2 separate regions of the Homo sapiens genome follow, and region 1 is linked to region 2. The links come from fine-mapping of genetic effects on gene expression. Tissue or cell type: tibial artery. Region 2 holds a variant in brackets; the other region holds the start of a gene. All regions are shown on one strand. Distances are between the middles of the regions.

Evidence for each region. PIP is the estimated chance that this variant, and not a neighbour inherited with it, causes the effect. A credible set is the group of variants that fine-mapping cannot tell apart.
Region 1: PARP3 starts here. The variant in region 2 is the best candidate, but not a certain one, in a credible set for the expression of PARP3 in tibial artery (GTEx, PIP 0.52).

The regions. Positions count from the first base shown.
Region 1 is chr3:51,939,756-51,943,914 of GRCh38, reverse strand. It overlaps PARP3 (poly(ADP-ribose) polymerase family member 3), which reads right to left and starts at 1,552. Exons shown (of 11, transcript NM_001003931.4): 1 at 1,207-1,552; 2 at 377-561. The coding sequence starts at 559. RRP9 (ribosomal RNA processing 9, U3 small nucleolar RNA binding protein) reads left to right here and starts at 2,011. Exons shown (of 15, transcript NM_004704.5): 1 at 2,011-2,134; 2 at 2,424-2,506. The coding sequence starts at 2,048. RefSeq lists enhancers at 1,547-1,876, 2,001-2,649.
Region 2 is chr3:51,976,377-51,980,535 of GRCh38, reverse strand. It overlaps ABHD14A-ACY1 (ABHD14A-ACY1 readthrough), which reads right to left. Exons shown (of 17, transcript NM_001316331.2): 2 at 2,454-2,665; 3 at 2,162-2,277. The coding sequence starts at 2,589. It overlaps ABHD14A (abhydrolase domain containing 14A), which reads right to left. Exons shown (of 5, transcript NM_015407.5): 2 at 2,454-2,665; 3 at 2,162-2,277; 4 at 1-143. Among named protein-coding and RNA genes, the nearest start is that of ABHD14A-ACY1, 3.4 kb to the right of the region's middle. The variant C/A (reference allele first, on the strand shown) is at 2,096.

The sequences.
Region 1 (4,159 bases), 37 kb after region 2:
ACATGGCTAAACCCTGACATGGAGGTATGGGGGGTGCTGGGGGGGACACAGCTGGGCCCTGGATGGGGGAATCTGAGAGGGACATGGCTCTGCCCTGAGGGGACATGGGCAAGCGCCCAGGAGACTGATGTAGTCACAGCCTTTCCCTAAGTGCGGTGGGAGGAGGCCTGCATGGGGTCTGAAGGGCAGATGTGACCCGCCTGGACCTGACGGGACACAGCCCTGATGTCTGGGGTCAGGAGAACATGGCCTTGCTCTGGCGCTTACCTGGGGGCCTTGGGCTCCAAAACCAGAACAGAGTCCTAAGGGGGTGGCCTGGGTGTGTTTGTGCTTATCAGTGGGCAGGCTCTGGGCCTGACTGGGGACTGCAGCTCACCTGGGTCCCGGGGTTGCTGCTGAGTGGACATGTTGGATCCACGCGGATTATGCGCTTCTCTGCGGGTATGGCCTTGAGGGCCTCAGCGGTGGAGCGGAAGGGGTCCTCCTCCCTTCCTGCCTGCCGGCCCTTCTTCTTCTCAGGGCCCTCAGTCTGTACCCAGGGCTTCGGCTTTGGAGCCATGGCTGTCCTGGGGCACAGAGAGGCCCTTAGGCCTCCATGGTCTCCTCATCCCCAACGACCCACTCTCAGTCCCCACCCCTGCCCTGGGCCAGCACAGCACCAACTTGCCCCACCCCGGGTTGGCCCTTCGGTGGCCTCCCACTGCATCCTGTGTCCACTCTGACGGCATTCCCAGCCCCAGACCACACCCAGCTCTTTGTCACTCAGAAACACCCCTTTCCCCAGTCCCAAGTGCAAGGTTAGGACTCTGTCCAGTCTGCCCACTCTGGTCAACAGGGTCTGCCTGGCTCCCTACCCTCTGCAGCTCACCTGTGTGTCCTGAGGGGTAGGGAAAGTGAAAGGAGGCTCTCTCTCTTCCACTTCGGGGCTCCTCCCCCTGTGTCAGCTAGTTCAGCCCTGGCATGGTTGCCGGGCCGAGTCACCGAGCTATGGGGGAGGGTGGGCAGAGGATCCTGGGGGCAGGATTCTTGGGGCCAGATTATCCTCCCGGAGCTTAGAACCCAGAGCTGTAGAAGCCCTTCCCAATGGACTCAAGAGTTCTGAGGAGCCAGAACTCCGGATCAGTGGCCTTGAACTGATAGAGGGCAAAGGCCAGTCCCACCAGGCCTTGCCCTGCCCTGCCGTGGGCAGGACCATAGGACACTCACCCAAGAAAAGCAGGGACATGGGAGAGGTCCTGGCTGCCACCCGGCCTGGTTGTGTGCGCCTCCCAGGGCAGTCCCAGGTCTAGCAACTCTCCATGAGCCTCAGGCGTGAATTAGGGAGAGAATTCCCAACAATCGCCAGAGGCCGGGGATGAGCTTGTGTGGGGGATTAGACATCGGCTATTTGGCCACCAGTGGGGTGAAGCAGAGGCTGGGGCAGGCCGAGTCAGGCGACCAGTCCCACGGACGGGTGGACACTCGATCTGGCATATCCAAGGCCGGGGCAGTCGCGTCCGTAGCGCTGCTCATGTGGCCGGGGCCTGCAGCACGCATCTGCCGGTCGCGCGGTGACCTTGGGCCCGGATACAGACGCAGCCTCCCTCTCCCCGGGGCTGCTTGGATCCCCGTTGGGTCTAGCGCCGGGCTGCCCATGGAGGGGAGGAGTCACGTTCCAGAACGCGAAAGGGCGCCGCGTCTCTGGCGCCCCCCAGCGGCCAAGGGGCGCAAACACAGAGAAGGCTCTTGCTCCGACTTCGAAGTGGGCCAGCAGCAGAGCGCAAGCGCCACAGCATCAGGCCGGAAGCGCCGTGGAGATGCGGGCTTCCTACTCGAGCCTGGTGCGGGAGCCTAGGAACTTCAGGAGGCGGGGCTACAAGCGTGCATCCTATGGGTGCCTGGGGGCGTGGCAGAGCCTGCAGAAGGACCCAATGGAGCAGTAGGAGGCGGGGCCCGGCGGGCGGTGGAAGCCTATCAATACGCGGGGTCTTGCCAGGCGGCTGGGGAGCTGGGAGGGTTCAGCTGCCACGTGAGTTCTGCGGCCGCTGCTACACGCCTGGTGGGCAGCATGTCGGCAACAGCGGCTGCTCGTAAGCGGGGAAAGCCGGCCTCTGGGGCCGGGGCTGGCGCGGGGGCCGGCAAGCGGCGGCGAAAGGTGAGCATGGCGCTTCTGAGGGCCGCGGTCAGCCCTGCTACTGGGACAACCGTCATCCCATCCAGGGGACCTGGGTCCCGGCCCTTCCCCAGCCCTTCGCCCTGGACCCCTGCTGGAGTCAGCTTCGTCCCTCTCTCCGCGGGCCAAATCCTAGAAAGCCGTTCGCTTAACCCGGGAACCACCGCCTTCCCCATTCCTGGGGTTCTGAGGGAACCGAGGGGGGGGGGCCCTTGGTCAATGCCAGGGTGGTCTGGACCCCTGACCAAAGAAAAGACCGTATAATTCCCAGGCCGACTCTGCGGGGGACAGGGGCAAATCCAAGGGTGGCGGCAAGATGAATGAGGAGATCTCCAGCGACTCTGAGAGCGAGAGGTGAGCTATTCTTTTCCACATAGTGGGAGGGAAAACTGAGTCCCATGGTGCACGGAAGACTGAGTGAGTCCGAACAGAACTGAGCCTAGAATCCAAGACTCTGTCCCTTGGCTCTGAGATCGTGGCTGTTTCCTTTAGTTTCTGGTCCTGCAAAGTCTTGTTTCTGCGAGGTCTCTGGGTGGGAAGGACCCTGGGCCCCAATCCGAGGCCATTGAGACCTCCTTAGGTTTTGGCAGGGACTGGACTGATTGAGAAATTGCAGGAAAACAGAACAAAGCTGTCAAGTATTTCTTGCATCCTTCTTCCCTTGCCAGTTTTCCTGCAATTTCACAATTACTGGGCTCCCCGTCTCTTAACATGCCAGGCACTGCCTTTGCTGTTGGAAGTGCAGAGATAGGCAGGCGGGTGAAGAGAGTGTGTTGTAGTGAGGTGTGTATTTTATAGTTGTGTGTTCTGGGAACAGAGGAGGGACATTTAAATAGGGTCTTGAGAGATGAAGAGGAGTCTCTCACGGAGAGGTAGGGAAGGCATTCAGTGATCAGAGGAAAGTCTGAGGTGTAAGTGTGCCAGAATGGGCAGTAGAAAAGATGAAAGGGGGCTGGGCCTGGTAACTCATGCCTCTAATCCCAGCACTTTGGGAGGCCAAGGCGGGAGGATTGCTTGATGTCAGGAGTTTGAGACCAGCCTGGGCAACATAGCGAGATCTTGTCTGTACAAAAAAAAAAAGTTAGCTGGGTATGGTGGTGTGCACCTGTAGTCCCAACTACTCAGGAGGCTAAGGTTTGGGGATCCCTTCCCAGGGAGTTGAAGCTGCAGTGAACTATGATCATGCACTGCTCTCCAGTCTGGGTGACAGCAAGATCCTGTCTCTAAAAAAAAACCACACACAAAAACAGGAGGACTGGTCATAAGTGCATGTAGATTGTAGAGGGCTTTGGATGCCTCCCTCATTTCTGCAGGTGATGGGTGTGGTTGCTTGCAGGTTTTCAAAGGGTCAGGCATGGTGTCAGGCCTGACCCTGTGGGTTGGAGGCTCTTGGACCAGAGAATCCTAGTGCCTTCCCTATGAGTTGACTTTAGAACTCGCTTCTAAAATTGAGTATGTGTTGCCTTAATTTGCTCATGGAAAGAATGTACTTTTTTTTTTTGTTTTTGAGACAGAGTCTCACTCTGTTGCCCAGGCTGGAGTGCAGTGGTGCGATCTCGGCTCACTGCAACCTCTGCTTCCCAGGTTCAAGTGATTCTCCTGCCTCAGCCACCTGAGTAGCTGGGATTATAGGCCTGCACCACCATGCCTGGCTAATTATGTATGTTTAGTAGAGATGGAGTTTCACCATGTTGGCCAGGCTGGTCTCGAACTCCTGACCTCAAGTGATCCGCCCATCTTAGCCTCCCAGAGTGCTGGGATTATAGGCGTGAGCCACCACACCCAGCCATTAATGTACTTTTCTTAATCCGAAGGTTATTGTGGGTGAGTGTGTGCCAGGCTAGTGTGGGCTAAGTGCTTTTAAATATTTTTAGAATGTTGTGTTGTGAAGTGTGTTAGATACAGAAAAGTGAATGAGATATATTTGCACTACAGAGAGTAATGGTAAAATGGTAAACCTCTGTACACTTACTTACCACTTAGGTTAAGAACTAGAACATTTGCAGA
Region 2 (4,159 bases):
GAAGGGCAGGGCATAGTGGCCACTCAGCGAGGGGCTCACCAACACGGCATTCTGTACCTCCAGGTCCCGCAGCGCCCGCTCCAGCAGCGCTGCCCGCCCTGCCTCTGTGCTTGCCTCCTTTGAAGGTGCCGAGTTCCCAAAACCTAGGAACAGCAGCAGGTACCAGCTGAGGGGCACTGGGAAGGGGCACAGGACTTCCTGCCCACCACAGTGGGGGAAAAAGTTGGGGACCACTGGCACTGGCACACACTACCTAAAACTGCCCAGAAGCTATTTTCTGGTAATGTAATATGCCTGTTAGAAAAGCATATCTTGGCCGAGAGTGGTGGCTCACGCCTGTAATCCCAGCACTTTGGGAGGCCGAGGCGGGCAGATCACGAGGTTAGGAGATCGAGACCATCCTGGCTAACACGGTGAAACTCCGTCTCTACTAAAAATACAAAAAATTAGCCAGGCGAGGTGGCGGGCACCTGTAGTCCCAGCTACGCAGGAGGCTGAGGCAGGAGAATGGCATGAACCCCGGGGGGCGGAGCCTGCAGTGAGCCGAGATCATGCCACTGCACTCTAGCCTGGGCGACTGCGAGACTCTGTCTAAAAAAAAAATAAAATAAAATAAAAAATAAATAATACCCAGTGTTGGGGGAGACATGGGGAAATGGGCACTTTCATACATGACAGATGGGAAGATAAATCCATATAGTGTTTTTGGAGGGTGAGATAGTAGTTATCTAAATTTAAAAATGCATGTCCTGGCAGCTGGGCGCGGTGGCTCATGCCTGTAATCCCAGCACTTTGGGAGGCCGAGGTGGCGGATCATGAGGTCAGGAGTTTGAGACCAGCCTGACCAACATGGTGAAACCCTGTCTCTACTAAAAATACAAAAATTAGCCAGGCATGGTGGGGCGCACCTGTAATCCCAGCTACTCAGGAGACTGAGGCAGGAGAATCGCTTGAACCCAGAAGGCGGAGGTTGCAGTGAGCCGAGTACGAGCCACTGCACTCCAGCCAGGGTGACAGAGCGAGGCTCTGTCTCAAAAAAAAAAAAAACAAAAAACAAAAAAAGAAACAAACAAAAAAAAAACAAAACACAACACATCCTTTGGCCCATCAATTGTCCTCAGTAGCTACCCTAGAGAAATTATTGCTCACATGCTCAAAGAAGCATGCCCAAGGATGCTTTAGCTACTATATTGCTTGAGCACTCCGCCAGTAGAGGAATGGCTGAATAAAGCCTGTCCATCCCTCCTATGGGACACACTGCAGGGTTGACAACAAAGAGGGAGGTTTGTAGGGACCGGCATGATCCTTGAGACATGATGTAGGGGGAGAAAACCAAGCTACAGATGGATGTGCTAAGCAGACAGGATACCAATCATGTTTACAGCCCCCACTAGACAATCCTCTACATCGTCTGCATCTTTACATGTGGGAATACCCAGAACAGCGTGTGGCATCCCCTAAACTTCTTAGAGAGGGAGAGAAATGCGGCACCAGTCTCTCAGAGCTTTGCTATTTTTTAGTATTTTTTAATCCTCTATGACTCGACATTTTTTCATTTTTTTAATGACAAGAATGATAGCATAAATCATTTGTGTACTTAAAAACACAAAACCTATATGGTTTGCCATAGAAAGTACACTGCTTGGCCGGGCGCAGTGGCTCACACCTGTAATCCCAGCACTTGGGGAGGCCGAGGCAGGCGAATCACCTGAGGTCGGGAGTTCAGGACCAGCCTGGCCAGCATGGTGAAACCCTATCTCCACTAAAAATACAAAAATTAGCCAGGCGTGGTGGCAGTCACCTGTAATCTCAGCTACTGGGGAAGCGGAGGCAGGAGAATTGCTTGAACCCGGGAGGCGGAGGTTGCAGTGAGCCGAGATTGTGCCATTGTACTCTAGCCTGGGTGACAGAGCGAGACTCTGTTTCAAAAAATATATATAAATAAAATAAAAAAAAAGAAAGTATACTGCTTGTGAAGAGTTTTTATTTGCTCCATGACCTAGAATTCACACTGTAGTTTTCATAGTAGAAAATGAAAACACAGACTTTTTCATGGTGCCACCTTATGTTGTGACCTGCCACGGCCTGTCCAGAC[C/A]CTAGGGTCCAGTTGCCTCCCAGCCACACTTAAGGCTTCCCTAGACAAAGGGGTGGGGGTGCTCACCTGGAAGGTCAAGGGCCACGGCCCGGTAGCCCCTCTGTGACAGTAGCTGCAGTGTGCCCAGCTGCTCCCACGTGTGAGAGTTAAAGGCCTTTCCATGAAGCAGCACCACCTCCACCCTGCAGGCACACAGGGGAATGTGTTTGCTGGGAACCTGGTGTAGCCCACCTTTCTTTATTCCTAGGCTTCTCCCATTGCCCTCCCAGGACCTGAGCACCCTGAGTATAATGGGGGTCCCACACAGGGACTCCCCTTGAGCCTAGTCCCTCCACTAGACCCTTGGAGCAGCACCTACCTGTGTGCCTGGTTGAGTGGGAGCACCTCGCGGTAAAAGATGGGCGAGTTGCCAGGGGTGAGACCAGCCAGGACTGTGACATTGGGGTCTCCCCAGAGGCAGGAAGTCTGCTCAGGGGGGCCTGGCAGCCCCACATACAGTAGGAGCATGAGCAGCAGACTCAGGCCCAGCAGGGCTACCTGGGACCGGCTCATGGAGGTCTGTACCACAGTCTGGAGAGGGAGAGGAGAGGGAAAAGAGGCTGGAACTGAGTCCCTACAAGGACCCTGGATCCCATCCCAAAACCCCACCCAGAGTCCCCAGCAGAGGAAGAGCTCCAGCCCTTGCCCTTTCCCTTGCTCTGGGCAAAGTTCTGGGAGTTCACACTCAACTACTCCACATGCCAGGGCAAGCGCTCAGATACCTCACAGTGTGAGGAGGTGCATCTGAGGTGTTCTCTGGCACACAGCATGCTCAGTGACCGCCACCATCATGGCATCAGCTGAAACCACTTCCGTTCATCAAGCGCTTATGACAGCAGGCCCTGAGTGTGGCACTTCACATACAAGGTTCTTTTCCACCAAGAATGCTGGGGAGCAGACGTGATTATAGGTCTCTTATAGGTGAGGAAATGGAGGCTCAGAGAGGTACATTCTCTTGCCCAAAGTGCCAAGTAGCAAGTGGGGGAATTGGGGTTTGAACCTAGGAATGGGCTTCTAACTACCAGGCCACACTCGGTTTGCCAAGGAGGAACCCGTGGAGCTGGGAGATGATGGATGAACTGGAGCCTTGCAGGTGGAAAAAGTGATGAGGGCTATCAAAGGAGAAAGACTGCGCGCAAAGGGACCTCCCACTTAAGGGCATGTTTGGAAATGGTTCTTTTAATCTCACTGCATTTAATACTGCTAAAATCAGAACGCGTTTTACAATCGCATTATAACTAAGGTCTAACCCAGCTGTTATGAAGAGGCTCACAGAGAATGTCTTGTAATAGAGGAAAATGCTGAGGAGTGAGGGGCTGCAGGGCCAGGGAGGAGCATGGTACACCCAGAAATGAAAAGCACAGTGTAGAGGTTGGAGAGATGAATGCCGCCTGCTACTCCCCATCCTACACACAGACAGCTTCTGGCCAAATGACTGCTTCGTGGACTCCTCCAATCTGGGGTCTCTGCCACCCCAGAGGACAGCCCTTAGGACCCAGGACTCAAACAGGACAGGCCTTTGAGACTGCCACTTCCTGACCTTGTGTCTTCAGTTTGTCAGTAAAATGGGATAACCTCGTGGCTGCCCTCCTAAGCTTCCTGTGAGATTTAGATAATACCGTGGACTGGATCAGGGCTGTCCCTGTCATTTCTTGGGCCTAGGATGAGCACGCCTGCTTCCTTCCAGGAGTCCAGCAAACACATCTTTATTTTATTTTTATTTTTCTGAGACGGAGTCTTGCTCTGTCGCCCAGGCTAGAGTGCAGTGGTACAATCTCGGCTCACTGCAACCTCCGCCTCCCGGGTTCAAGCAATTCTCCTGCCTCAGCCTCCCGAATAGTGGGATTACAGGCTCCCGCCACCGCGCCCGGCTAATTTTTGTATTTTTTAGTAGAGACAGGGTTTCACCATGTTGGCCAGGCTGTTCTCGAACTGCTGGCCTCGTGTTTCACCCGCCTCGGCCTCCCAGAGTGCTGGGATTACAGGCGTGAGCCACCGCGCCGGGCCAGCACATCTTTATTGAGT